Homo sapiens: one gene and its partner. The protein of the gene in region 2 purifies or fractionates together with the protein of the main gene of each other region. This does not show direct contact. Each region holds a gene or a part of one and is shown on either strand. Other genes may lie near its edges. The genes, in order: SUPT5H and IWS1.

The links.
Region 1: the proteins of IWS1 (region 2) and SUPT5H purify together in Homo sapiens (affinity purification with mass spectrometry; 2 studies listed by BioGRID and IntAct, with this or other methods). This does not show direct contact.

What each region holds. Positions count from the first base shown.
Region 1 is NC_000019.10:39,451,621-39,466,850, forward strand, and holds part of SUPT5H (transcription elongation factor SPT5), read left to right. Parts: intron 1-1,735; coding exon 1,736-1,901; intron 1,902-6,054; coding exon 6,055-6,120; intron 6,121-6,673; coding exon 6,674-6,685; intron 6,686-7,197; coding exon 7,198-7,267; intron 7,268-7,384; coding exon 7,385-7,453; intron 7,454-7,563; coding exon 7,564-7,629; intron 7,630-7,938; coding exon 7,939-7,969; intron 7,970-8,271; coding exon 8,272-8,340; intron 8,341-13,177; coding exon 13,178-13,429; intron 13,430-14,859; coding exon 14,860-14,949; intron 14,950-15,054; coding exon 15,055-15,125; intron 15,126-15,230. UniProt on the Homo sapiens protein: Component of the DRB sensitivity-inducing factor complex (DSIF complex), which regulates mRNA processing and transcription elongation by RNA polymerase II.
Region 2 is NC_000002.12:127,518,486-127,533,578, reverse strand, and holds the start of IWS1 (protein IWS1 homolog), read left to right. Parts: upstream 1-7,089; 5' UTR 7,090-7,370; coding exon 7,371-7,404; intron 7,405-9,787; coding exon 9,788-9,903; intron 9,904-15,093.

The DNA of each region.
Region 1 (15,230 bases), on a different chromosome or scaffold from region 2:
TCCCAGTTTCAAGCGATTCTCCTACCTCAGCCTCCTGAGTAGCTGGGAGTACAGGTGCCCACCACCGTGCTGGGCTAGCTTTTGTATTTTTAGTAAAGACGGGGTTTCACCACATTGGCTAGGCGGGTCTTGTACTCCTGATGTCAGGTGATCCACCCGCTTTGGCCTCCTAAAGTGTTGGGATTACAGGCATGAGCCACTGCACCTGACCAGATTTCAGATTTTTGGATTAGGGATGTTCAACCTGTATTAGGTAAATGGATTGTAGTAATGACATGGAAGAAGTCGTGAAGTTCATGAGTTAAAGACTGAAGTTTGGTATGCATCCATTAATGTTGTTTCTGGTATGGAAAGAGGGATTAGAGGCCAGGAGAGTAGGGAGGAGGCTGGGGTAAGGATCCAGGTGTTAGAGGGCAGTGTCCTGGCCTAGGCTCAGATATATGGGGCTGGGGGAAAAGGATGGGTTGGAGAAATGATGTTTACAGGCAGAAAGGATGAGGATTTGGTGCCTGTCGGTAATTGGAGGAGGCCATCACAGGTCTAGGGGAAGACACTGAGGTCAGTTTGGGACACAGTGAGTATGAAAGGGCTCAGAGGCCATCTAGGGGAGGCATCCAGGATGCTGCTGGTGCATGGAGGTCTTGAGTTCTGGAAAAAAGTGGGACTCTATAGACAGATGAGGACACGTGTCATCTCTAGAGACAGGAACTGAGGTCATGGAAAGTAAAATGGACAGGGAGAGAGGGCATGGAGGGAGAACAAAGTGGCCCTGGACTGAGCCCTGGTAATTGATGTCAGATTTGAAGGGGTTAACAGTAAGAGGAGCTTGAAGAGGAGCTGGTGGAGTTTTGAGAAAAACCAGGAGAGCATGATACGGCAGAAGCCAAGAGAGGAGCATTTCTCCAGGGAGGGCATGGTTGGGGTGCCAGATGCTGCTGGGATGGTAGGGAATACAGAATGGCCACAGAATTAGCAACAGGGGTGGCCAGTGATCTTCGTGAGCAGTGTGGACTAGAAACAGAGATGGGAGTCACTGTCACAGAGATGTCCACCACCGCCAAGGGAGAGGACGAGATGGCCTTGGGGAGTTGTAGAATGGGAAGAGATGGGCCAGGTGCTGTGGCTCACACCTGTAATCCCAGCATTTTCGGAGGCAGAGGCGGATGGATCACCTGAGGTCAAGAGTTCGAGACCAGCCTGGCCAACATGGTGAAGCCACGTGTCTACTAAAAAAATACAAAAATTAGCCAGGTGTGGTGGCGCACACCTGTAATCTCAGCTACTCAGGAGGCTGAGGCAAGAGAATTGCTTGAACCCAGGAGGTGGAGGTTGCAGTGAGCCAAGATTCTGCCATGGCACTCTAGCCTGGGAGACAGAGTGGGACTCTGTCTCAAAAAAAAAAAAAAAAAGAGAGAGAAAGAAATGAGGCCCAAGGACCAAGCTTCATCAAGCTATTATAGTTAAAGACTCGGTGGAAAGTGAGCAAGAGGTCTAGTGCAGGGAGAAGCCCGGGTCAACTCCCAGGGTTGCTTGGGTGGCTGGGGAGATGGCAGTGCTGTCGCTGAGATAGGATGGTAACCAGAGAGGCCAGGCTAGAGTGAAAGGGATATATGCAGAGCAAAGTGGGCTATGATTGGCCAGGCCAATCTGAGGTCAGATTTAGGGTGAGGAACTTGGTTTTTGGATTTTTGGGGTAGCAGAATTCTGGTGCTACAACCCTGCCTGACCCCTGTAGGTAGACGAAGAGCGGCGGAGTGCAGCGGGCAGTGAGAAAGAAGAAGAGCCTGAGGACGAAGAGGAGGAGGAAGAGGAGGAGGAATACGATGAGGAAGAGGAGGAAGAAGATGATGACCGACCCCCCAAGAAACCCCGCCATGGAGGCTTCATTCTGGACGAGGCTGGTATGTCATAGTGCTTGGCCAGTGCCGAGCAGAGGCTGAGCTTCTACTTTTAGTTCCATTTCTTTTTCTTTTTTTGAGGCGGAGTCTCGCTCTGTCGCCCAGGCTGGAGTGCAGTAGCATGAACTTGGCTCACTGCAAGTTCATGCCATTCTCCTGCCTCAGCCTCCTGAATAGCTGGGACTACAGGCGCCCGCCACCACGCCCGGCTAATTTTTTCTATTTTTTAGTGGAGACGGGGTTTCACCTTGTTAGCCAGGGTGGTCTCAATCTCCTGACCTCGTGATCTGCCCGCCTTGGCCTCCCAAAATGCTGGGATTACAGGCGTGAAGGACCAAAGTTCTTAACTTTTCTCGTGCTACGGCCCCTTCTGTAGTCTGGTGAAACCCTGTTCCCTTCTCAGAATCATCTTCTGAAATGCATAAAACAAAATACATAGGATTCCAAAGAGGACAATTTATTGAAGTACAGTTATCAGAATATTTAAAAAGAACATTTTGGTGCATATGTTTCTTTGTTAACATATTTAGGTAATAAGACTTTGTAGGTAGTCTGAGAATCTAATTTTCAAGTAGCAGTGAGTGTAAATGCTGCCTTGAGATACCTATAGCTGTAATGTGCTGTGAAAGAGCCAGTGACACAGCTAACATTGTGTGGTTTGTTGCCATTGTATGTAATTGATGTAAATGCTAAATTTCAATTCCAGGTTACTGAAAATAGGAGCTGTAGTTTTTTCATCGAACACAGACCACCCCAGATGAAAAATCTCTGTTCTACGTGTTAAATCCCTGTTAGTCAAATTGCTAGGTAAAGGTGGTGCATTTTGTTGTTGTCGTTGTTTTTTTTTTTTTTTTTGAGACGGAGTCTCGCTCAGGCTGGAGTGCAGTGGTGCGATGGCTCACTGCAACCTCTCCCTCCTGGGTTCAACTGTTTCTCCTGCCTCAGCCTCCTGAGTAGCTGGGACTACGGGCACGTGCCACCATGCCTGGCTAATTTTTTATATTTTTAGTAGAGACAGGGTTTCACTGTGTTAGGATGGTCTCGAACTCCTGACCTTGTGATCCGCCCGCCCTGGCCTCCCAAAGTGCTGAGATTACGGGCGTGAGCCACCATGCCTGGCCGCACTTTTTTTAAAAAAAGATTTTTTATATTTACGGCCAAATATCAGTTCCTAAAAAGATAAGACTAGTTCATACTTCCATGATGATAATGAATGTGCATGTTTTCCCTTACCTATGGGAAGAGGGGTTACTTAGAACACATCCTGCCTCTGTTTTCCTGGGACTGTTTTACCTGAGAAGAAAAGTAGTTTATTGTCAAAGGGACAGGAGGTGCTCTGGATGTTCTTGGAGAGCAAGAGAATGGATACCATGCTGGGTAAAAGCTGTGGGTTCCCAGGGACACCCATATGTTGGTGGTGGAAGTGTTGGTGGGCACTGCCTGTGTGGAAGGCTGTGTGGCAGTGCCTGTTAGCATTTAACATGCAGGAACCCTTTGACCAAGCAGTTCCTCTTTAGAATTTACTTTATGGTTAAACTTGCATGAGTGCATGAAGACCTGAGAACAAAGATGCTTGTTGTAGTCCTGTTCGCAGTTGCAAAAGTTTGGTGACCTAAATGTTTATTGATGATTAGGGCCTGGTTAAACAAATTATGGGCCATATAGTATATGAGGCATGTGCTGCTGTGGGAGAGCTCTGAGTTAGTAGTAGTTTTGAGAAAAAGAAAGGTACAGAACGGTGTGTTAAAAAAATTACGTGGGGGCTGGGCGTGGTGGCTCATGCTTGTAATCCCAGCACTTTAGGAGGCTGAGGCGGGTGGATCATCTGAGGTTAGGAGTTCGAGACCAGCCTGGCCAAGATGGCGAAACCCTGTCTCTACTAAAAATACAAAAATTAGCTGGGCGTGGTGGCGGGCGCCTGTAATCCCAGCTACTTGGGAGGCTGAGGCAGGAGAATTGCTTGAACCCGGGAGGTGGAGGTTGCAGTGAGCCGAGATTGCTGCACTCTAGCTTGGGTGACAGAGCAAGACTCGGTCTAAACAAAAAAAATTACATGGGGGGAACATAGTGGTGGCGGGGTGGATTACATGCATTTCTTTTCTTTTCTTCTTTTTTTTTTTTTGAGATGGAGTTTCGCTTTTTCACCCAGGCTGGGGTGCAGTGGTGCAATCTCAGCTCACTGCAACCTCCACCTTCTGGTTTCAAGTGCTTCTCCTGCCTCAGCTTCCCGAGTAGCTGGGATTACAGGTGCCTGCCACTACGCCCAGCTAATTTTTGTATTTTTAGTAGAGACAGGGTTTCACCATGTTGGCCAGGCTGGTCTCGAACTCCTGACCTCATGATCCACCCACCTTGGCCTCCCAAAGTACTGGGATTACAGGCGTGAACCACTGCGCCCCGCCTCTTCTTTTTTTTTTTTTTTTTTTTTTTAAGACGGAGTTTCTCTTGCCCACCCTGGAGTGCAGTGGTGTGATCTCGGCTCACTGCAACCTCTGCCTCCCGGATTCAAGGGATTCTCCTGTCTCAGCTTCCCGAGTAGCTGGGATTATAGGCGTGTGCCACTAATTTTTGTGTTTTTAGTAGAGACGGGGTTTCACCATGTTGGCCAGGCTGGTCTCGAACTCCTGACCTCAGGTGGTCCACCCATCTCGGCCTCCCAAAGTGCGGGGATTATAAGCATGAGCCATTGTGCCCAGACCTTTTTTTTTTCTTTTTTCTTTTTTTTTTTAAAGACAGGATCTCACTCCGTTTCCTAGGCTGGAGTTCAGTGGCATGATCATGGCTCACTGCAGCCTCTACCTCCCAGGTCCAAGTGATCCTCTCACCTCAGCCTCCTGAGTAGCTGGGACCACAGGTGTGCATCACCAGGCCTGACTAGACTGTTTTTTTTTGTTGTTGTTGTTGTTGTTGTTGTTTTTGAGACGGAGTTTCCCTCTGTTGCCCAGGCTGGAGTGCAGTGGTGTGATCTTGGCTCACTGCAACCTCCACCTCCCGGGTTCAAGCAATTCTCTGCCTCAGCCTCCCGAGTAGCTGGGATTACAGGCGCCCACCACCATACCTGACTAATTTTTTGTATTTTTAGTAGAGACGGGGGTTTCACCATGTTGGCCAGGCTGATCATGAGCTCCTGTCCTCATGATCCACCCGCCTCGGCCTCCCAAAGTGCTGGGATTACAGGCATGAGCCACCGTGCCCAACCCTAACTAATTTTTTAAGTTTTTGGATTTAGGAGGTCTCACTATGTTGCCCAGGCCGGTTTCAAACTCCTGGGCTCAAGTGATCTTCCCACTTCGGCCTCCCAAAGTGTTGAGATTACAGGTGTGAGCCACCACGTCCAGCCTTACATGGATTTCATATATGTACACAGATATCTCTAGGCAAGAAACTAGTCACGGAGTTGCCTTTGGGAGAGGTTACTGAGATTCTAGGGGTTAGAAATGTGAGGGAGACTTAATTGATACTTACATCCTCTATGGACATTGGAGTTTTTCATTATGTGCATGTATTACGTTTTTAGTGTAATGTTTGATACCTGCAAAGCAGTACATCCAACATGGTAAAGAGATTAAGTACATGGACCATGGAGCCAGACTGCCTCTCTCAGATCCCAGCTGAGTCTGTGGGCAAGTTCCTTAATCTCTCTGGGTCTCAGAGCCTTTGCTGTAAAATAGGAACAACGATAGTGCCTCCCTCGGGGTTGCCAGGAAGATCAGTGAGGAACCTGTGTCAGGTACTCAGAACAGGGCAGGGTGTATAGTATGCTCTCAGCATTAGCTGTTATAAATGTACAAGAATCATAAAACCAACAGACCATGAACCATCTTTTAAAAAACTATTTATTGATCATTTTCTGATAGTTGGGAGGGAACTTTTCTTTTTGCTTACTTTGATCTTAGTTTTTTAAAAGGGATTTGGGAGTGGAGTAAGGAGAGGGGATGACTTTTAGAGTTAGTTGGAGCTGTATGTCCCCCTCGATCCTGATGCGTGCACCAGCTCTGTGGCACGGCCCCAGACGAGTGCCTCCCTGTTGGAGCCTCAGTGTCCTGCTCTGTGCGGTGGGGATTTGTAGTGCACATCTCCCAGAGGAGATGCTTCGTGTCCTGGGAGCTGTTATGAGGTCACCTTTGCCACTTACCACTTGGCCTTTCCGTTTTAGATGTTGACGATGAGTATGAGGACGAGGACCAGTGGGAGGATGGAGCAGAGGACATTCTAGAGAAAGGTGTGTGTGAGCCCTGCCTCCACAAGACTACTGGGAAGAGGGTGGCTGAGAGGGTCTTCAGAGCCCATTCCCCCGACCCCCGCATCCCCTGTACACCCCAACTCCCACCGTCCTCACCTTGCTTCTTTCTGTCCTTCCCAGAGAGACCAGCTCCCTGCTTTTTCCTTTTAGGCCCATGAGTGGGGGGTGGGGCCCTGGGGTGGGGATGTTGTGGGGAGAGGACTCTGGGATCCCAGGGCCCAGTGAATCCCTTCTGGGGTTGTAGGGTGGGCGAGCTCTGTCCCAAGATACCCCCCACTTCCTGGGCCAGTGCCCCCCTTTCCCCGTTATTTTCCGTTCTGTGCGCCTCATACATTTCGGCTTCTCCCCAACCACCTGGTGCCTGGCCTTTACTTTTGGTTTTCAACCTTTCTGTGTCCCTCCCTTCCCCTCCCCCAACCCATTGGTTGATTTTGCTGCTATAATTTGGCTCATACTTTGTCTGCCCTCGCCCACCACCACCACCACCACCACCACCACCACCACCACCACCACCTCCTCTTCCTCCAAGTAGAAGAGATTGAAGGTAAGAATATGAAAAGTGTGATTCCCTGACCTTCCTCCCATATCCTGACATTTCCTCCTTCCTGAGGCACCTGCCCTCACCGGTAGCCTCCCCACCAGCCCCGGTCTGGCCCTGAGGGCTCTGACCCATGTAGGATCCAGAGTCAGGGAGTTCTGGGGCCAGGTATACCCCAGTTGTTGACCTGGGAAAGCACGGATGTGTCTGTCTGGGACTGAGCATTTGTGGGTGGTAGCGATGTGTGGGGTGGGGTGCAGTCCAGGGTGTGCCTGGACTTTGAGATGGGAACAGCTGGAAGCCCCCCAACTTGCTGGGCCCCATCCCCAGTCTTTTTGACAAGAAGCAGGATGCTGAGTAGGACAGAGTAGGGGATGAGGGGTTGGGATTTCCTCTGTGAGATGTCATCTTCCTGCCCCAGGGCCAAACCCTGGCCCTCTTAGCTGCACGCTCCTATTTTCTCCAGGCCCCTGCCCTCCACCTGCCCTTGCTCACGCCCTCTGCCCATTATTTTTCAGCCTCCAATATCGATAATGTTGTCCTGGATGAAGATCGTTCTGGGGCTCGCCGCCTGCAAAACCTCTGGAGGTGGGCAAGGAAGGGAAACGTGGTGGGATTGGCTCCTGTGGGGAGATTTGGGAGTAGGTCAGCCCACCTGCTGTCCTCAACCTTCAATTCGTGTTTGCTTCCCCACTCGTGCTCCAGGGACCAGCGAGAAGAAGAACTGGGCGAGTATTACATGAAGAAATACGCCAAGTCATCTGTGGGAGAGACGTAAGGGCATGGTGGGGGCAGGTGGGGGCAGGGAGCAGGTGGTCCCTAAGCGGGAAGGGGCGGGGATCTGACAGAGCTTCACCCCTTCCTGACTGCCCTCCTCCCTTCAGGGTGTATGGAGGATCTGATGAGCTCTCAGACGACATCACCCAGCAGCAGCTGCTCCCAGGAGTCAAGTAAGGGGGTTGGGATGGTGGGGGCCGTGCTGGGGTGCGAATCTTGTATGGGGTGATGGTGCCTAGACAGGTGGCTCCCTGAAATAAGTCAGGGCAGAGTCACACAGGCAGTGTGGTGGATGGCAGGGGTAGGGAGGGCAAGGTGGCACTTTCTCTTTCCTCTTGCTCCTGGGTAGAAGCGTGGGGAAGTCAGTGAGTGTGAGGGAACCTGGATGTGAAACCAGAGGAAGGGGGTGGCCCTGGGGGTTCGTCTGTTTGTTACTGAAGATCCAGCTTCACTGAAGGCCTTCCTTTTCCTCTGCTGCTTAGGGATCCCAATCTGTGGACTGTCAAATGTAAGGTATGTGCTCTGATCTCGGGGCTTGGAGGAGGTGGGAGAATGAGGGAGGCTGCTTTGTGGGGGAGAAGTGTCTGTCTGTCCCGGGTCTCCGTGGCCTGCCAGTCACTTGGTCCTTCTGTCTCCATCCCTCACTCCACGTTACTGACTGGCTATCTCCCACCTCCATCTTCCTGGCTGTCCATCCTTCTTTCTCTCTCCTCTCTTGGTCCTACTTTATTTTTCTTGCTGCTGTCTCCTTCCCCCTTTCCTGTGTCCTTTCCTCCATCCTGTCATCTCTCTCAAATCTGCCTCTCATCTTCCAGATTGGGGAGGAACGGGCCACGGCCATTTCCTTGATGCGCAAGTTCATTGCCTACCAGTTCACAGACACGGTAAGTCGGGTAGACAGGCGGCTTGGTGGGGAGACATGGCAACACCCAGAGGGAAGAACATTGTCAACTTCAGGGGTACCAGGTGCCTCTGTTGTGAGCAGAGCTGCCTGCTGAGTGAGCTGCTTGAGCTGGAATAAGACCACTGCCTAGATGGAAGGGCTCTTCTCGGCCTAGATGGATATGTTGTCTTTGTTCTCTGCATTTATGGCAGGGTCTTCCCACCCTTGTAGCCCTTTGGAAGTCAGCCAGCTAGCTTCCTGCACCTTTTCTTCATGAGAGTGGGTTTGCCTGTTCACCAGCCCTGTTGGGCTGGGGTCACCCACTTCACCACATGCCAGGCAGCAAATGCTGCATCCAAGGCCCAGGTCTTTCTTTAGACTGACAGAGTTTGAGTCCTGCCCTTGCCACTTCTTAGCTGTGTGACTCTGATGCACCTACTTCCCCTCTCTGGGCCCCTTGGTTGCCTCTCAGCATCATTAGGATTAAGTGGCTTTTGGCTGGGTGCAGTGGCATTCACCTGTAATACCAGCACTCTGGAAGGCTGAGGCAGGCAGATCACTTGAGGTCAGGAGTTTGAGACCAGCCTGGCCAACGTGGTGAAACCCCGTCTCTACTAAAAATACAAAACTCAGCTGGGCGTGGTGGTGCACACCTGTAGTCCCAGCTACTTGGGAAGCTGAGGCAGAATCACTTGAACCCAGGAGGCAGAAGTTGCGGTGAGCCGAGATCGCATCACTGCACTCCAGTGTGACAAAAAAAAGGATTAGGTGGCTTTATGTCCAGCTCTCAGCTAGGACTTGTTCTGCAGCTTGCATTTACTTAGCAGAGCTGTTGTCAAAGGCTTCATTGGCAGTTTGGGAACCAGGGCAAACGCTATGAAGGGTGCTGGCTGGTAACTTTCTCAGTTAACATGATCCCTGCTAGGGATCATGCTTTCACCTGTCCAGCCACTGGGTGTGACCCAGTGGGACCAAGTAGACAGTTGTAGGGTTTGCAAACTATGCTTTTAAATGTGCTCAAATGTCCTCCTCAAAGGCCGGCCATGGTGGCTCATGCCTGAATCTCCAGCACTTAGGGAGGCTGAGGTGGGTGGATCACGAGGTTAGGAGTTCGAAACCAGCCAGTTTGAGACCAGCCTGGCCAACATGGTGAAACCTTGTCCCTACCAAAAATACAAAAATCAGCTGGGCATGGTGGTGCTTGACTGTAATCCCAGCTACTTGGGAGGCTGAGGCAGGAGAATCACTTGAATCTAGGAGGCAGAGGTTACAGTGAGCCAAGACTGCGCTATTGCACTCCAGCCTGGGCGACAGAGTGAGACTCCGTCTCGGGGTGGGTAGGGGGTGGAATGTCTTCCTCATTATTATAGTAATAAGTGTCCCTGCCTGTCATGGGTGAGATTGGGATTTGTGGGGTATGATTCCCCAACAGGGAGGTTGAAAAGGTACCTTTTGGCTAGGTGTGGTGGCTAATGTCTGTAATACCAGTATTTTGGGAGGCTGAGGCAAAAGGAGTTCGAGGCCAGCCTGGACATCATAGTGACATAGTGACAACTGATTTCTACAAAGAAAATAATAATAGGCCGGGCGCGGTGGCTCACGCCTGTAATCCCAGCACTTTGGGAGACTGAGGCGTGTGGATCACCTGAGGTTAAGAGTTCGAGACCAGCTTCACCAGCATGGTGAAACTCCGTCTCTACCAAAAATACAAAAGATTAGCCAGGGGTGGTGGTGCATGTCTATAATCCCAGCTACTTGGGAGGCTGAGACAGGAGAATTGCTTGAACCCAGGAGTTGGAGGTTGTAGTGAGCCAAGCTCGTGCCACTGCACTCCAGCCTGGGCAACAGAGCGAGACTGTCTCAAAAAAAAAAAAAAAAAAATAATAATAATAATAATTAAAAGAAGTGTGCTCAAATCCTCCTACATGGTACCCTGGGGTAAAATTCTAGTTACTTCATTTGAGTTATGTCTCTGATTATTATTTTTTTTTGAGACGGAGTTTCACTCTTGTTGCCCAGGCTGGAGTGCAATGGTGTGGTCTCGGCTCACTGCAACCTCTGCCTCAGCCTCCCGAGTAGCTGGGATTATAGGCATCCGCCACCATGCCCGGCTGATTTTTTTGTATTTTTAATAGAGACGGGGTTTCACCATGTTGGCCAGCCTGGTCTTGAACTCCTGGCTCAAGTGATCCACCCGCCTTGGCCTCCCAAAGTGCTGGGATGGCAGTTCTGAGCCACTGTGCCCAGCCTAAAATTTAATTTTTTTAAAGTGTAAACTGTGGTGGATTTTATATATTGTAGTGTATTCATAACCATCATCACCATCTAATTCCAGGACATTTTCATTATCCCAAAAATAAACCGATACCCATTAGTCATCACTCCCCATTCCTCCCTCCTCACAGCTCCTGGTAACTATGAATCTACCTTCTTTCTCTGTGGATTTGACTATTGGAACTCTGAATGGTTCATACAAAGGGAATCATACAATATGTCGCCTTTCGTGACTGACTTGCTTCACTTAATGTTTTCAAGACTCATCCATATTGTAGCATATATCAAGACTTCATTTTTTTGTTTGTTTTTTTGAGATGGAGTTTTACTCTTCTTGCCCAGGCTAGAATGTAATGGTGCAGTCTTGGCCCACTGCAACCACTGCCTCCCAGGCTCAACTGATTCTCCTGTCTCAATCTCCCAAGTAGCTGGGATTACAGGCACCCGACACCACGCCTGGCTAATTTTTGTGTTTTTAGTAGAGATAGGGTTTCAGCATGTTGGCCAGGCTGGTCTCGAACTCCTGACCTCAGGTGATCGGCCCACCTCGGCCTCCCAAAGTGTTGGGATTACAGGCGTGAGCCACTGTGCCCAGCCTTAATTTTCTTTTTTTTTTTTTTTTTTGAGACAGAGTCTCGCACCGTTGCCCAGGCTGGAGTGCAATGATGCGATCTCGGCTCACCGCAACCTGCACCTCCCGGGTTCAAGCGATTCTCCTGCCTCAGCCTCCCAAGTAGCTGGGATTACAGGCACCCACCACCATGCCCAGCTAATTTTTTTTTTTTTTTTTTTTTTGGTATTTTTAGTAGAGATGGGGTTTCACCATGTTGGCCAGGCTGACCTTGAACTCCTGACCTCAGATGATCCACCCCTCAGCCTCCCAAAGTGCTGGGATTACAGGCATGAACCCACTGCGCCTGGCCAACCGGCCTTAATTTTTGTATTTTTAGTAGAGGCAAGGTTTCACCATGTTGGCCAGGCTGGTATTGAACTCCCGACCTCAAGTGATCCTCCTGCCTCGGCCTCCCAAAGTGCTGGGATTACAGGCATGAGCCACCGCTCCTGGCCTTTTTTTTCTTTTAGTTGGTATTTACAGCTATACATTTACTTCTAAGCATGGCTTTTTTCAAATCTCATAAGTTTTGGTATCTAGGAGTGTGTTGCCATGTATTTGTGAATTTCCTAAGTATCTTTCTGTTGGTTTTTAACTTCATTACATATGGATGGAGAATATACTTTATATGATTTTAGTTCTTTTATGTTTACTGAGACGTGTTTTATGGCCTAACCTGTGGTTTATTCTGGAAAGTTTAATATGCCCTTGAGAAGAAAGTGCATTCTGCTGTTGTTAGATGGAGTGTTCTTTTTTCCCATTTCCGCTTAATAAGTGGAAAGTGAAGACGAAATGTTCTGTCTATAGCTGGCTATTAGGTTTAGGTGGCTTACAGTGTTGCTCAAGTGTTCTCTTTCCTTGTTGATCTTGGGTCTAGCTCTATCCATGATTGAAAGCAGGGTATTGCAGTCAGTGATTGTTACTGTTGAGTTGTCAGTTTCTTCCTTCATTTTCATTAGTTTCTGCTTCATGTATTTTGAGGCTCTGTTAGTTTCATATACATTTGTAATTCTATCTTCCTGATGGATTGACCTTTTTATTGTTACAAAATGTTTTTTGTTGTCTCTGGTAGCAATTTTTGTCTTAAAGTATATTTTGTCTGATGTAAGCACTCCTTTCTTGGTTCTTCTTCTAGTTGCTTTTTTTTTTTTTTTGAGACGGAGTTTTGCTCTTATTGCCCAGACTGGAGTGCAATGGTGCGATCTCAGCTTACCGCAACCTCCACCTCCCGGGTTCAAGCGACTCTTCTGCCTCAGCCTCCCGTGTAGCTGGGATGACAGGCATGTGCCACCACACCCGGCTAATCTTGGATATTTTTAGTAGAGACAGGGTTTCTCCGTGTTGGTCAGGCTGGTCTTGAACTCTTGACCCCAAGTGATCCACCCGCCTCGGCCTCCCAAAGTGCTGGGATTACAAGCATGAGCCACCGTGCCCGGCTCTAGTTGCTTTTTTACACAGAACATATGTTGGATAGCTTTCTATATTAGTACATACAGGTTAATCTAATTTTTATTTTATTTTTTATTTTTAAGAGACAGGGTTTCACTCTGTTGCCCAGGCTGGAGTGCAGTGGTGCGATCTCAGCTCACTGCAGCCTCAACCTCCCGGGCTCAAGCAGTCCTCCCTGCTCAGCCTCCTGAGTAGCTGGGACTACAGGCATGTGCCATCACACCCAGCTAGTTTTTGTATTCTTTAACTGCAACATTGTATTTCATGGTACATTAAGCCATAAGTTAACTAGTTACTGTTTCTGGATATTTTTAAAATTTTTAGTCTGGTTTGTTTGCTGTGATAAATAATTCTGCAGGGAACACCTTTGTGTCCATGTCATTGTGCCAGTGTGTTTCTGTGGAATAAATTCCTAGAAGAGGGACTGCTGATGAGTGGCAGTCATTTCTGTTATTAGCCGTTGTGTCTCACTGTTTCCTCCTTCCACCGGCTCACCCTGCAGCCCCTGCAGATCAAGTCAGTAGTGGCACCAGAGCATGTGAAGGGCTACATCTACGTGGAGGCCTACAAGCAGACCCACGTGAAGCAGGCCATTGAGGGGGTGGGCAACCTGCGGCTTGGCTACTGGAACCAGCAGATGGTGCCCATCAAGGAGATGACAGACGTGCTCAAAGTGGTGAAGGAGGTGGCCAACCTGAAACCAAAGTCCTGGGTCCGCCTCAAGCGGGGCATCTACAAGGATGACATTGCTCAGGTGCCCGGGGCGGGGTGGCATGGGGGTCAGGGTCCCTCCATTCTGTTCTCCCTTCCTTTCCTTTTGTCCTTCCCACCCTCTTTGTGCTGCAGAGAATAGAATCCCACTCAGATGAGTTGAAGCAGAGCCTGGGTTTTGTGAGCACACAGGAAACGGTTGGCTGTCTTCTGTGCACATTCCCAGGCGTGTTGAGTAAAGGTCTGAAGGATCGGAGGGCGTGAGGCATGTGGAGCTCTTGGGGAGGAGTGTTGTAGGCAGCAGGAGTGGCCTGTGAGATAGGATGGCACAGTCACTGGCTACAGCAGGGATGGCGTGAGATGAGTTAGGGAGCTCACGAGGGCCTGCGGCCCATTGGAGAGCTTTGGTGTTTACTGGCGTAGGATGGGAGGGCTGTAAGGGACACAGGCAGACTTCAATGTTAATAAGATTTCTCTGGTGACTGTGTTGAGACTAGACCACTGGTTCTCAAGCCAGGGTGATGTTTCCCCAGGGGACATTTGGTAACGTCTGGAGACATTTTTGGTTATGTCAGCTGGGGAGGGGGTTGACGATTATGGCATCTAGCAGGTTAAAGCCAGAAATGCTAGACACACACATCCTCCAATGCACAGGATGGCTGCCCACAACAAAAAATTACCTGGCCCAAAAAGTCAATAGTGCCAAGGCTGAGAAACCCGGGAATAGCCTGGAGGGGGCCATGGGCAAGAGCGTGGAGACCAGGGAGGAGGCTGCTGCTGTAGCACATCCCACCCAGATGGCAGTGCTGGTGGGATAGGACCAAGACCCTAATACACGTTGAGTGTCTCTAACCTGAATTCTTGAGACCACAGGTGTTTTTCAGATTTCAGATTTTTTCAGCTTTTGGAATATTTGCATTATACTTACCGGTTGAGCATCCCAAATCTGAAAATCCAAGAGTGAGCATTTCCTTCGAGCATCATGTTGGTGCTCACAGGGTTTCCTATTTTTGAGCATTTTGGGTTTTTGGATTTGGAATGCTGAGACTGCAGTGGAGGAGGGGAAGAGGTCAGGTATTTTGAAGGCAGAGCTGATGGAATTTGCCAACGGGTCGGGTGTGGGTGTAAGAGAAACAAAGGAGTCAAGAGTGGCTCCCAGGTTGTGTGCCTGAGCAGAGGGAAGAATGGAGTGGGAGGCGGCAGGTTTGGGGGAATCAGCGGTTTGGCTGCGGTCGTCCTGGATTTGAGGGACCTTTAGACATCCAGGTGGAGATACCAAGCAGGCAGTGGCTACTCAGTGCCAGAGTTGAGGGGACAGACAAGCTAGCGTGGGACTTTTGGGAGTGGTCAGCAGCCTGGTTTCTTCCCCACCATCCTGCGTCCCTTCTCCTTCCTAGCATCTCCTGACCCTTCTTGTGTCTGGGGTCAGGGAGGAGAGTGGGGCCCTGCTGACCTTCTGCTCGCCCTGCTCAGGTGGACTACGTGGAGCCCAGCCAGAACACCATCTCCCTGAAGATGATCCCACGCATCGACTACGATCGCATCAAGGCCCGCATGAGCTTGGTACTCAGGGGAATCTGTGGCCTGGGGGGGAGGGAGTGTGCTCGATCCCACTGGTGGCCAAGCCCCCTCCCTCACCCTTCCCACCCATGCCCCTTTCCTCCATAGAAAGACTGGTTTGCCAAAAGGAAGAAGTTTAAGCGGCCTCCACAGAGGCTGTTTGATGCTGAGAAGATCAGGTGCGTGTCCTTGGGGACTGGCTGGGCTGGGTCCCCAGGGCCGGTGTGTAGAATGTGCCTTTTGCAGGTTCCTCCCCAGGGGTGGCCCCGCCACAGGTTTAGCCT
Region 2 (15,093 bases):
ACTTGGAGGGAGCTGCATGTTCCGAGTCTTTCAGGCGGCCCCCTGTCCCGCCTGTTCCCCCTAGAACAGCCCCCCAAGTTCTGCCCTTGCTCTGACTAGCCTCCTGCTCCCTAAAATTTGGTTCGGTTTCTGGGTCCACACTCAGCCTTTTTGAGCTTCATGCTGCACATGGTTTCTCGGGTTTAGAAAGATACCATTTAGCTCCTCTAGGGCTGACGCTGCTGCTCCTGGCAGCTCCCAGAGATGGTGAACCCCTTGCTCTGGGGCTGAGACTGAGTCCTCTTCGGACCTTTTCTACTGCCCTCATGTAAGAAAATATTGGGACAGAAAATCTGTGTGGACCAAAACAATCTGTAAGATGTTCCCATCCAGTTCTCACCTTATGCAAAATTTGACAGAAACACATTTTAGATACTGACCTGCTATTCTCTGTCTCTCTCTATTTTATGTTACACATTATATCACAAGAACTTTCTGACACTGTACCAAACTTTTACCATTGGTCTTTAGAAACAGCGTGACAGTATGTCACACAAGTGCCCCATCATTTGTATACCCATCCTCCCTGGATGGACCCTGGGAGGTACCCAATCCTTTGCTGTCACACACAATACTGCAATGAACATATCTGTGCTCTCAGCGTTGTTTGCATTTTGTCATTATGGAAGATTCCAGTGGGATCTCTGGAAGAAGATCTTCCACTATGGAAGAACAGTGGGCATGAATTTTTGGTTGCTAATATTTCTCAAGTGGCATGCCAAGTCCTCCCTCCCAGTCAAAACTGCGCCTATGATTGCAAGGACCTGGTCTGATTGCTGTGTGAGTTGGTGCAAAGGGGGACACCCTGAGGCATGGTTCTCCTGGAGCCTCAGGCTTTCCATAGCCAAGGGACCCCAAGCCCTGGAAATCAAGAAGATGGGTTGGGGAAAGGCAGGGCAGGCTCTTCCTGGTAACACGGGCGACCAGGCTTGGCTGTCTCCCAGCCCAGTGCTACTTCCACAATTAGCGTAGTGCTCATTTCCCAAGACGCAAATATTCAGCTAACCTTGAAAAACATGTTTGTGAGCTGAGCTGAAATGCGCCCATGGACAACCTATGGTTCATTCCATTCCTGTCAGTGACCAAGCCCATTATAGCGTCATCACAGCGACTGACACAGAGCAAGCCTTTCGCTTCAGCTCTACCAGCATATCATAGAGCTAACTGAAGTCACTTGCTTATGGTGGCCCTAATATTCCCATCTAGGCTACAGCAGCCAAATTATCCATTAACCCTATGAAACAGCAAGGTTGGCAGCACAGACCTCTGCGACTGAACTACTCTTTAGAACATTTTTGAATTCTCAGTCTCAGAAAGAGCTGGCATGTGATAAGGATTTTCTCTGTGCTGGGCTCTTTGCTTGTACCATCTCACTCAACCCTCATCAAACCTCAACAAATGAGGGGTGCTTCTCCTCATTTCATAGCAAGGAAGTTAAAGTCAAAGAGGTTATGAAACTTGCTTAGGCCACACAACCAAAAGTGGCAGAGGTGCGGTTTGAATTAGGGTGTACCTGACCCCATGGCCTGGGCTTATTGGGATGTATTATACCACGCCAACCCTCAGACAAACCAGACCTCCTCCTTCCTCACCCCAGTGATGCATGAGACATCCTATCTTCAGAGATTTAAAAAAAAAAAAGGTGTTTCCCCAACTTGCTGGCCCTAGCCCAGGGTTTGAAAGGCCTTGCCCATTTTGTTGCCTTGGTTTCTGAGATGCTGGGGCAAGGGAATATCTGGGAAGAGAAGCAACGCTTAAATGCTTCCCTGGAAACACAGTTGTGCACAGTACAAGACAGTAGATCACAGGGCACATTCTGTCCTGTAGTTCAGGGTTTCTCAGTCTTGGCATTATTAGCGTTTTGGAGTAGATTGTTCTTTGTTGGGGAATGAGAGGCGTTGTCCTGTGTACTGCAGAACATTTAGCAGCAGCCATTGGTTATGTCCCCACCCCTAGTGGTGACAAATCAAAATGTCTTCAGATATTATTGCCAAATGTCTCTGGGGGACAAAGTCCCAGTTGGGAACCAATATATAGTTCACAGGCCCAGGTGCCATTGGAGGCTGGGAGAAAGAGGAGGCCAACAAAGACCAGAACGAATGTCCTCCCGGAAGAGGTGACCCTGACCCTTGGGCTCCTTCAATGGCAGGAAGATATGGCTCAGAGGGAGGGTGCATGGAAGATGAGTGCTTCCTGGAGGATCTTGGTTCTGACATGCCAAGGAGATGACTGTGTCATCAGGCAAACTCAAGTACTTCATCCTCCGGGAACAGCAGCTTCAAGATAGCTGCTCCTAGACTGGGAAGGTCTTGGATCCAAAGTCCTGATGGGCCAGCTAGGCATCCACAGTCTCAGCCCAGGAGGAAAGGACTCATTTCTGGTGGTGCTTTTGTCACCATAAGCCCTCTGAGGAAACTACCCAGAGATTTGTCCAAGGCAGCAAGAGGGGGAAAGTAGGGGCACAAAATGAAAAGGTCACCTCCTCCTCTCTAGAGGGCTTTGGGCAATCCAGTGGATAAATCTGTCTTAGGCCCTAGCATTTAAACCTAGGTCACTGGCCATAAACATGGGACCTCTGTCCCATGACCAGGGTTAATGGCATATCCTGATGACTAATCTTATTGCCCTGGGGGAGATTGAGATACTGACAAGGAAAAGCAAAACTTGCTTACGTGTCAACTCAATAAACTAAATAAATGAAGTTAATGATGCTAATTATGACGATAGTAATACTTTGCCTAGCTCTTGGAAGATAGTGATACTTTGCCTAGCTCTTAGGCTCATTGCTGAGAACTTTATTTCTGGGAAAAGAAGTACTGGGGTGGATTTCTTAACCTTGCCTGGAATGCTGCATATCCACCAAGATCACTTTCCTTTTCCTCTTGGTCCCACAGTGGACATACTCTTCCCTGCCTCACTCACAATTAGAAGGGGCCATGGAATGAGGGTAAGTGATATGCTCTAACTCCAGGCTAGACCCACTAAAATATCCTGCACCTTTCTACACACTCTCTTCTCCCATCTGCTGGTGGCATGCAGAGCATCCAGTAGGGGCTTCTGAGGCCCTGGGAAATGGTGGAGCCACAATATGGTAAGAGCCTGGATCCCTGAATGACTGCTAGGAGCAGAGAGCAACCTCCACCTCACCACTGACCCCACTGCCCATTGACAAGAGGAAGAAACAAACTATTATCAAGTCAAGCCACTGAAATTTGTTGATGTTGTTATAACAACATAACTACATGGTAGATTGTTAGCTTACCATGATTGAAACATTATCTTTCCATCCAAATCGGCCTTTGTCCTTCAAATATCACCTCAAGCACCCTCCCCCAAGGAAGCCAACCTGATTGTTCACTCTAGCCTCACCCTCCTTTTAATTCCCATGGTACTTGTTACCCACATCACACAATTCACCTCTTAGCATTTTCTTTTTTCAAAGCCGTACTTCCTAATGAATTGTAAGCTTCTCAAGGTAGGAATCATGTGTTAATTTTCTGTATCTTCACAATGCCTAATAATAATGATAATAGCTAACATATATATTGCTAATCTTAAATAGTAAGATGCATAAAATATGATTACACATAGAGTTTATTTGAGTGTGCGGATAGCCACCCAGGAGACCTCAACTCCAAACGAATGGGTTCAGCGTTCCAAAGTGAAGAAGTTAAGGTTTTACTTATACAGAGACAGACAGAAAAATTTTAGCAGGATTATAACATTTTCCATACAAGACAGTGCATATGTTACAGTGATTTGATTGGTTACAGATTGCTGCATCCCAAGGAAGATGACATTATTACTCTGTAGAAGGGGCAGTGATCTGAGGGGGTTTTATCTCTGGCACCACTTAGTCTCAATTATTTATAGGTGGAAAAAAGGCAGAAGTTGCAGCTGCATGCCATGTGACTCAGGCTGCATAGTCACATTCCTCTCAAGACTCAGAACAATTTAAGTTCCAACAGCTTTAAGTTTGAATTATTTGGCTGGGTGCAGTGGTTCACGTCTGTAATCCTAGCACTTTGGGAGACCGAGGTGGGTGGATCACCTGAGGCCAGGAGTTCAAGACCAGCCTGGCCAACATGGTGAAACCCCATCTCTACTAAAAATACAAAAAATAGCCAGGCGTGGTGGTGCACACCTGTAGTCCCAGCTACTAGGGAGGCTGAAGCACGAGAATTGCGTGAACCCAAGAGGCGAAGGTTGCAGCGAACCAAGATTGTGCCACTGCACTCCAGCCTGGGTGACAGAGCGAGATCCCATTTCAAAAAAAAAAAAAAAGTTTGAATTATTTAATTTCACAATATTCTGTCCCAGGAATCATTATATAATATATATATTTATATCATGTATAATATTATACAAGTAATATATATAACATATTATACATTATAATTATATATGTGCATTTAGCTTCATGACAACTCTGTGACATAAATGGTACTGTTATCCCCAACTTATAGATGAGGACGTTGAAGCACAGAGAGGTTCAGCAACTTGCTCAAGGTCACGCAGCTAGTAAGTTTCATTTGTGTCTTCCCTGGTAGGGCTTGCTAGTGGCTCAAGCACAAGAAGCTGGGTCAGACTTAGAGACCTGGATTCTCTGACGTAGAAAAAAGCTAAGAGTACTTGAAACCTGATTCAACCCTCTCATTTGATACATGTGGAAACTGAGGCTCATAGAAGGCTGGTAGCTTGTCCCAGCTTACTAAGTACAATAAGCCCAGCGATAGGCCCACAGCCTAGGGCTCTAAGCCCCCAGTCTACAGCTCTGATGGTGCCAGGCTATTTATATTATGCGGCCTCTTGCTCCCTGACATGTTCAGCAGATGGCAGTGTCTTCAGAGTGTCTCCAAATAAATCTTACATTCACTTAGGGAATGCAGCGTCTCTGGGTTATCTGTTAAGGGAGGAAGCATTGTGGACTGCTGCAAGTTTGCCTCTCCATTCTTCTGTCATTAGCACCCTTGGTGTGGGAAACAGCCTATCTTCTGGGTGCCTCCCTACCACCGCCATGGGCCAACTGTACTGGGGTGGGGTGTGATGGGTAAGGAGATGGCAGTCCTGAAAATGTAAGGCAGCCAAGACTCAGAAAGACACATCTGTGCCACTACAGAATTTCTCTACCAGGATCCAGGAGGGACAGCCAGCTGGTAGGAAGGAGCTCTGGGAACTCTCCGTAAGCTGTGTTTACACTGACAACCACACTGCTTTAACTAAGGCTCTGTATTCATTTGAAAGACTTGTCCTGTCTCACTAAATTGTTGGCTTTCTGAGTACAAAAATTAGATCTGATGCTTCTTTGCAGGCTTCTAGAGCTAAGAACATTGTTGTGTGTCCAGAGTGTTTCTATCCTTTCTCCAAACCACCAGTACAGTTAGTTTTAACGCTAAAATTCAGTAATTTTCATCCGGCAATTGCATTGTTTATAACCCAACCACTTTCCTGACTGTTGGACTTACATCTCTGGTGAAACTAAAAGGTTCTCTTCCACTGAACCTCCGCCTGGAATTTTGATCTATTAATCCTGCTCCATTTACACAGGTGTACTCTCACCTTCTCTTTAGAAGAGGGCTTAGAGCCTTGATATCTTCTATCAAGTGATTCGGTTTCGGGCATTGCTAATTCTTTGTTCTTTTGATTCTCAAGACTGCCTGAGAAGATGTCATTCCCACAGCTGAAAAGAAGGAATTTGGATTCAATGCTGTTTCCACCACTTCGGAAAGGAATATCCATGAACTCTCTTGCAGGAAAATGGGAATTTCCAGAGAGAAACCACTTCTCCCCTTTCTTCTCTTCCCACGTCCTCTTCAGGAGCCTATAATTGGGCTCTGCCAGCATACTCTGACTGGCTAACGAAGGGTCAGATATCTGCAGTAGTAACAAAAGGCTCTTTTTCTACATGTCTACACCTCCTGGGGAGTCTTTGCTTAAACCTCTACTGGCCCTCCTCCGATCCAAAGGCAAGAATGTTCCCCTCTCTGTCCAAGACTAAAATGAACAAGTAAGGAAATGGATTTTACTCAGCCTATTGCAATAGGGAGAGCACTCCAGATATGATCAGTGTCTTGGCAGCGTAGTTTTGACTTTTATAGGGAGGAAGGTGGGATGATTGACAGTTGGGATTGTTTTGCAATCAGGAGAAGTTTCAGTCAGGTGAACAGGAAATGTTCTCTGTGTCTAACAAGTTGGGGGGAGGAGAGTTCTAATCTCAACTAATCACTCGATATCATCAGCGGGAATTTGGAAGGTCTGTTTGGCTTTATTAACAGGCTCAGAATAAAGGGGAAAGGTCTCTGGCCTTGTCACAGGCAAACAAGGGGGTCATCTGCACGCGTTTTATCTGAGTCACATGGAGACGGGTGGTTCTTTACAGTGTGCCGTTCCAGAAACACAAATAGATGAGGGGGTTTCTTAATCACCGCTGTTTTCCAGGAACACAGGGCTCAGGTAAAGTTCAACTTCACCTTCCTCCGGTGTTTCATCAGGGGAACCCTTCTGGAAGCAAAGACGTGTACTTCTTACTGTTGGCTAAATGGCTTCTTAACAAGGAAATTAAATCGTTGTTTAGAATGAAAGAGAGGAAGACGCCGGGAGAGGAGGCGCTGTGGATCGCGCCAGTTAGTAACGCATCACAGCTCGCGGGCGTCATACTACAAGTCCCAGTGAGCAACGCCCGCTTTCTTGCCTACTGCGGGCGGGAACCAGGCGCCTCTGGGCCTGACGGGAAAGACAGTGGTTTGGCTGAATGACGGAAAAGTCATTTGAGCAGGTCTTCATTTTTCGGAAGAGTATCTCAAAAGCTCTTCAAACAAGGCACGGACACAGAATCTAGGAAATGATAAAGAATCAATGATAACGTTATTACCACGGGGGTCAGACCAGGATCCACCCGAGGAAGGTATTTAACTAAAGCCCGAGTTCCAGCTCAATTTTCCCAGGAGTCTCCTTTCCGGCCGTGCCTGGCGTCATTGCTGTTGCGTCTTCTCATTGGCCGGTTGACGGGTTGCGGCGCCTGCGCGCTGCATTCCTTTGAGGGTCGTGGGCAGACGCCATTTTGGCCCCAGCGGTGCTTCTAGGAAGTAGAACGCCGGCTCGCATGCCTGCCCGCCCGCCAGCCTGCCGGGTACGGCCTTTTCCGCCGGGGCTTCCAGGTCAAAGAATTCGCCTTTGCCGCTACCGCTTTCTTACCCTCCGCACCCGTTAAGTTCTCCGGTCGGGCGGCAGTCTCTGAACACTTAGCCGCGCCATCCGGGGTCACACCGCCTGGAAGGAGGTGACGGGGGCGGCGCGGGGCGCGGACACTCCCCGCTGAGAGTCCGCCTGCCATGGACTCGGAATATTACAGCGGCGACCAGTCAGGTGGGGCAGGGACCTGGGGGACCGGGCTGGGAGGCGGAGCAGTTACTCGGCGGGGCTTGGCCTGGCACCCCGCGGGTGGGGGCAAGGAGGCCCCCCGAAACCTTCCCTCCCGCGACCCGGCCCGAGGAGGGCAAGAGCCCTCTGACCAGCTGCAAGCGTCGAAGCTAGAACGTTGGAGAGGGGATTCTGGTGGGAAAGCTTTCTTCTGAATCGGCGAAGGTTTTTGCTGAAATTGGGAAGTCACTTTCATATGTTAAGCTCCTATTGTGTGCAGGGAAGGAGAGGTGTCTTCTGTTAAGAGAGTTTTCAGTAGTTGAGTAGTTGGAGAATCCAAGGGGCGTTGGGGCGGGGGATCCTTCCTAGACTTTTCACTGCTAGTTAGGAGTGGTTTAATCTTGCTTGCAACACCGGACGTAAGTGCAGGACCCATGTTTCAGTTGCATGCATAGAGTAAGGAATGCGCTTCTGGCACTTACTGGTGGTTTTTGTGCCTTTCCTCCACCTTGAGATCGTTCCTCTTCCTCCTCACCGAAGTTTGGTCTCCTTTCTTTACTGTTTGTTTATTCTGTAAGCTGTTACTGGGGCCCACTCTGCTGGCACGGTGCTTGGCACCTGAGATTAAGGATAAGTGAGGCAGAACCTGGTGTGGGAAACACGTCGCATTTGCTTTCCCTTTGTGTGCTAGTCCTGTTGGGGCGTTCTGTTACAAAAGTTCTTAAATACACCATAAATAAATACACCCTCTATGTACCCACAAAAATTGAAAATTAAAAAGAAAACTTGAGTGCTTAAATAATTGTTTAAGCGTTAAGCCCTTTACTGTTTTGAGTTCATTGCTTTTCCTTACGTAGGACAGTGAATTCTAATGACTGCAAAGCGTTTTCCAGGCATGCACTGCTTAAAAACACTTTCCTAAGCCAGGTGCGGTGGATTATGCCTGTAATCCCAGCACTTTGGGAGGCGTAGGCGGCCGATGGCTTGAGCCCAGGAGTTCGAGACCAGCCTGGGCAACATAGTGAGACCAACACCACCCCCACCCCCCATGCCCGTACCCCACCCCCCTACGCCCCTACCCCACCCCCCTACTTCGTCTCTACAAAAAAATGCAAAAATTAGCCGAGTGTGGTGGCATACACCTGTAGTCCCAGTTACTCAGGAGGCTGAAGTGGGAGGATCCTTTGAGCCCTGAGCCCGGGAGGCAGAGGTTGCAGTGAGCGGAAGTTGCACCACTGCACTCCAAGCCTGGGCGACAGAGCAAGACTCTGTCTCAAAAAAAACAAAAACAAAAACAAAAACAAAAAAACACTTTCCTGATACTTTCAGAATAGTTTTTTTTCCATTCATTTGTGTTTTTAAGTTACTTTTTAAAAAGTAGACCGAGCACGGTGGCAAACACCTGAGGTCAGGAGTTTGAGACCAGCCTGGCCAACGTGGTGAAGCCCATCTCTACTAAAAATACAAAAAATTAGCCAGGCGTGGTGGCGGGCACCTGTAATCCCAGCTACTCAGGAGGCTGAGGCAGGAGAATCACTTGTTGAACCCGGGGGGGTGGAGGTTGCAGTGAGCTGAGATCACACCATTGCACTCCAGCCTGGGCCAAAAGAGCAAAACTGTGTCTCCAAAAAAAAAAAAAGTAATTATATGTAATACATGTATATAGGTTAAAATACGATTTTACTCTGTATTTTTTAAAGTATTGGGGCTGGGTGTAATCCCAGCACTTTAGGAGGCAAAGGCAGGAGGATTGCTTGAGGCCAGGAGTTTGAGACCAGCCTGGGCAACATAGCAAGACCCCATCTCTACAAAAATATAAAAGAAAGTTAGGTAACAGTTTGTATTTACCATTTTATATATGCTTTTCTTGAATGGATTTTCACTAGTTTTGGACTGGAGTTCCTTGTGTTCTTCATTTGTAAACAAATACTTACTGTATATCAGGTACTAGGCAGTGTTCTGGGCTCCAGAGATTTAGCAGTGAACCAAAATCCCTATTCTTGTGGCATTTTCTTTCAGGTGAAGAAGACCCACGTTAAACAAAATAACTTCAGGTAGTATATTAGAAGGTGATAAATGCCATGGAGAGAAAGACCCAATTTTAACATGAAGTTGAAATAAATTGTTGACTTGGTGTTTAGTGTTGTTTCTTAAGCTACAAATTGTTTTTATGGTGTAGTTTTGCTGCCACGTATTTCACAGTACATGTTATGCTTGTTGGTGTTTGTATGAGTATTGTATTACCTTATTCAAAATATTAGCAACTTTAGTTAATGCTTCCTCAGTGGTAACTTTTGCACTTACGTTATTCTTGATTCAGTGTGTTCATTTCACTGTAGATGTCATTCATCTTACACCATAAGTTGGTTTTTGTTTTGTTTTTAATCAGATGATGGTGGTGCTACCCCAGTACAGGATGAACGGGATTCAGGGTCAGACGGTGAGGATGATGTAAATGAGCAACACTCCGGATCAGACACTGGAAGTGTAGAACGTCATTCAGAGGTATTGGCTAACCAACATCTTTGGGAGGGCTTTTCCCTTGCGTTCTGTGAGATCTGTTATATTATAGGAGTTACAGAATCTCTGTGACAGAGTTTAGGGTTTAATCTCTGAGAGTAAAGGAGCATAAGTTAATAGAAAACCGCTTGAAAAATAAATAGGGATGGTCTGGTTACTGTTGAAATCACAGTGAAATATGTTCTGATTGGGTCACATTTCAAATGTTAGGCAGTTTTCAACTGTGCATATTGATTCAGAAAATGGGCCCGGCCTTTGATATTTGACTAAGTTTCCCTATTCTGCAATAATGTCATAGTGGGGCATTGAGCATTTGCAATCTGAAGAAACACCACTTGAAATAGAAAGTTATGGGGGTTATCACCTGTCAACATTTATGTCAGCATTTGCCCTTCTGATTTTGAACTGTTACGGTGTATATAATGTATGTAATAATAATGCTTTTTTTTTTGAGACAGGGTCTGACTCTGTAACACAGGCTGGAGTACAGTGGTGAGACCTCGGCTCACTGCAGCCTCTGCCTCTGGGCTCAAGCTATCCTCCCACCTCATAGCCTCCCGAGTAGCTGGGACTACAGGCACAGGCCACCACGTCCAGCTATTTTTGTTTTCTTGGTAGAGATGGGGTTTCACCATGTTGGCCAGGCTGATCTCAAACTCCTGACCTCAAGTGATCTGCCCACCTCAGCCTCTCAAAGTGCTAGGATTACAGGCGTGAGCCACCACACCTGGCCTGCAAATATAATTTTAAGAGCTGTTTTTGTTTAATAATATGTAATAGTATTGGGTTTTGTGTACATTTTAACGTATTTGCTCTAATACATAAATATTTCAGAACTGCTTTATTTTCCTTTCTGTTTATACATCATGTTAACAAGATAAAATTGGGAAATTTTTCAATAAGTTCGCCGTAAGTCTTTGGTAGATACGACTGAAACAAATAGGAATGATAAAGATGCAAAGATTTAAGAACTTTCTATGCCTTATATTTTTCTTGATTACACATATGCAGAAAATTGTCCAATTTTTAGTAGGTGTGATTAGAGATTATATTGACTCTGTCCTTTGACAGCAACATTAGCATATCATACATTCAACAGGTATTTATTGAGCACCTAATATGTGTCAGACTTTTTGCAGGTGCTTTGGACTTATCAGTGACTAGAAGTTAAAATCCTTCTCTTCTTAGGTTTGTTTTTCCAGTAGGAGGAGAAAGACATTAAGCAATAAACATTTTTTTTTAATTGTGTAGTCTGCTAGAAGATAACAAATGCTGTGAAGAAAACAGATAATTAGAACAAAGGATGGAGGGCAGGCTTTGGTGTTAAATAGGGACCATATAGGTCTTTTATTAAGAAAGTGACATTTGAACCAAGGTGTGAAGGGAGGCAAAGGAATAGCCGTGTGGATATGGACGTTTAGGGGAAGAACATCCCTGGCAAAGACCCCAAGGTGAGAGTGTGCTTGATATCTTCAAGGAGCCAGTGGAACTGAAATGGGGTCATTAAGGGGTAGGGGAGGTCAGAGAACTAAATGCGGGTGTGGAAAAGGCTCATCTTTTATATATTTTGATGTCACTCAGGTTTTTTCTGTGCTTTTAAACATTCAGAATAAATTCCAATATTTTAATTGATAGTTGGAAGTTACTTAATAATGTATATGTTGTTACAGCCAGTGCATTTAGTGCATGATATTTTAAGTTTCCTCTTTGGAAACAGCATTCAGAGATTAATCATGGTCAGTTTAGAGCCCAGTAGGGTAGTCATCTCATGGCCTCATGGTGCAGTTACAAGTTCAGGTTACCCTAAGCATCTTTGTTTTTTTATAATATGGATTCTAAATAAATAAGTGTGGCTGTTTTTGAAAATTTGGAAATCACAGACTGTCCCAGACTTAAACTATAATTTGACTTAAAAATTTTCAACTTTGCGATGTTGCAAGTGCTGTATGTATACTTTGAGTACCCATACAACCGTTCTGTTTTTTCACTGTATTCAGTAAATTACATGAGATACTCAACATTCTATTATAAAATAGGTTTTGTGTTGGGTGATTTTGTCCAACCGTAGGTCTTACCTCTGTAAGTGTTTGGAGCACATCTAAGGTAGGCTAGGCTAAGCTGTGATGTTTGGTAGATTAGATGTATGAAATGCGTTTTTGGCTTAATTATATTTTCAGCTTACTATGGGTGTATCAGGCTGTAACCCCATAATAAGTTGAGGCACTCCTGCATCTGTGAAGTTTAAAGAAAAAAATTAAAACCAGCATAGTCCAACTACAGAAATGACTATGAGCCTTTTCACATTATTTATCCTGCAGTTTCATTCTGTCCCAGGTATATGACGTCTATATATTTTAACTTTACTTGAGATGTTATTATATATATTTTGTGTCTTTCTATGTATATATTTTGAGACAGAGTCTCACTCTGTCCCAGGCTGGAGTGCAGTGGCATGATCTTGGCTCACTGCAACCTCCGCCTCCCAGGTTCAAGCAATTCTCCTGCCTCAGCCTCCAGAGTAGCTGGGATTACAGTGCGCTACCACGCCTAATTTTTAGTATTTTTAGTAGAGACAGGGTTTCACCATGTTGGCCAGGCTGGTCTCAAACTCCTGACCTTGTAATCCACCGGCCTTGGCCTCCCAAAGTGCTGGAATTACAGGTGTGAGCCACTGTGCCCAGCCTATGTATTATTTTTTATCTCTTCACTTAAGATGATACTTTTAAGTGTTTCCCCACGTCATTAAAGATTCTCAATAAGCGTAATGTTTAATGGTTTCACAATATGGATGCAGCATCACTTATTCAGCAATTTTCTAATTGTTGTCATTTATGCTGTTTAGCTATTGTATTAAATAACTGAAGCTGCCCTGAAGATTTTTGTACATAAACATTTGTGATCATTTTTTATTGTTTCCTTAGAAAGCTGCCAGGAGAATTAACGAGATTAGAGACTAAGACATTTTAAGGCTCTTCATAGAAATTCCTCTCCAGGAAGGTTATGGTAATTTGCTAAACCACTAGTACTTCAAGAGTGCCAGTTGTACTGTGTATAAGTGTTGAGTTCTGTATTAATGTTCTTTTGCCTGTTTAAAATGGCTTTTAAGAAGACATTTTGTTTTCTCATTAAACATTTTTTTTTAGAAGTAATGGGATGTTAAAAGAGTACGGTTGCATTAAATGAAGCAGTGCAAAGGCCGGGCGTGGTGGCCCTTGCCTGTAATCCCAGCACTTTGGGAGGCCGAGGTGGGTGGATCATGAGGTCAAGAGATCGAGACCATCCTGGCCAACATGGTGAAACCCCGTCTCTACTAAAAATACAAAAATTAGCCAGGCATGGTGGTTTGCGCCTGTAGTCCCAGCTACCTAGGAGGCTGAGGCAGGAGAATCTCTTGAACCCGGGAGGTGGAGGTTGCAGTGAGTAGAGATCACACCACTGCACTCCAGCCTGGCGACAGAGCGAGACTATGTCTCAAAAATAAAAACAAAACAAAAAAAATGGGGCAGTACAAATTACAGGTCCAAAGCCTGAAAGATACTAGTTTCCTCTTGAGGCTGTAACAACTTGATACAACTTGGTGGCTTAAAACAACGAAAAATTATTATCTTATAATTCTGGAGGTCAAGTCCAAAATGGGTCACACTGTACTAAAATCAAGGTGTCCCAGGGCTGTGTTCTTCTCTGAGGGAAGATACATTTCCTTGCTTTCTTCAGTTTGTAGTGGCTACCTGCATTTCTTGGCTGAGGCTCCTTCCTCCATCTTCAAAACCAGCAGCATAGCATCTTCACAACTCATTTTCTGACCTCTTGTTTCTGTCATCATATCTCTCTCTTACTCTGACCTTCCTGTATCCCTCCTGTAAGAACCTTTGTAATTATAATTGGGCCTACCTGGATAATCCAGGGTAATGTCCCTATTTCAAGGTCCTTACCTTAATTACATTTGCACAGTCCCTTGCATGTAAAGTGACATATTCACAGGTTCCAAGGGTTAGAACGTGGACATTTTTGAAGGGCCATTATTTTGCTACCATAAGATGGTACTCACAGCATAATTTTCCCAATAATGGTATTTTTTTTTTTAAACCCCTCATCTGTATTTTAGAATTTAGGCTAGTATTTTTTTTAAATTCATTTCACCTATAGTATTTACTCAGTGCACACACACGCACACACACACACACACAATCTTTAAGATAGTGGTCAGTATAGGAAATACTGATAAGATTTTGAAGACCAGTAACTTTTGCAGATTTCTTAACCACTTTATTAGAAAGCTCCTTTAGTTATTAAAAAAAAAACTTATTTTTTCTTAAAGTAATTGTATATGTCTATAAATAATCTCAGACAGGTGACAGAACAAGTCTCATATCAGACTACCTTAAGAAAACAAGAGTTTACTGTAACACATGTATGTAATGGGCTGTAAATCTTTCTGTCTAGGTAGCTTGTTCTGTCCATCTGTCATTGATGGCCCTGCCTAATGGCCATTTCTAATAACATCTCTGTTTATTCTTGTATGGTTGGCTTTATTTTTTTCTCCAAGATTTGAAAAACACTCAGTAATCAAGATAAATGATATTTTAAAACTCAAAATGAATGCAAAAAAAAATGAACAAAATATCAAAATCTTTAAAGTTAGGATCAGTAACAATGCTGTGTTGGTCTATATTTGAGCCAGAGGGAAAAGGAAAAACCAGTACTGGTTATCCTGTCTTCACATTTTAAATATTTTGTTCGTCATGGGTTTTTTTGCACCAACGTTGATCTTTAAAAAGATCACCTGTCTTGGGCCGGGTGCGGTGACTGACGCCTGTAATCCCAGCACTTTAGGAGGCCGAGGTGGGTGGATCCCCTGAGGTCAAGAGTTCGAGACCAGCCTGGCCAACGTGGTGGTGAAACCCCGTCTCTACTAAAAATACAAAAAATTAGCCAGGCGTGGTGACAGGCTCCTATAATCCCAGCTACTCGGGAGGCTGAGGCCGGAGAATCACTTGTACCTGGGAGGCAGAGGTTGCAGTGATCTGAGATCACGCCATTGTACTCTAGCCTGGGCAACGAGAGCAAAACTCTGCCTCAAAAAAAAAAAAAAAAAAAAGAATCGCCTGTCCTTTAAAAAGCAGCTTTTCTTTTTCTTTTTCTTTTTTGAGGCAGAATCTTACACTGTCGCCCGGG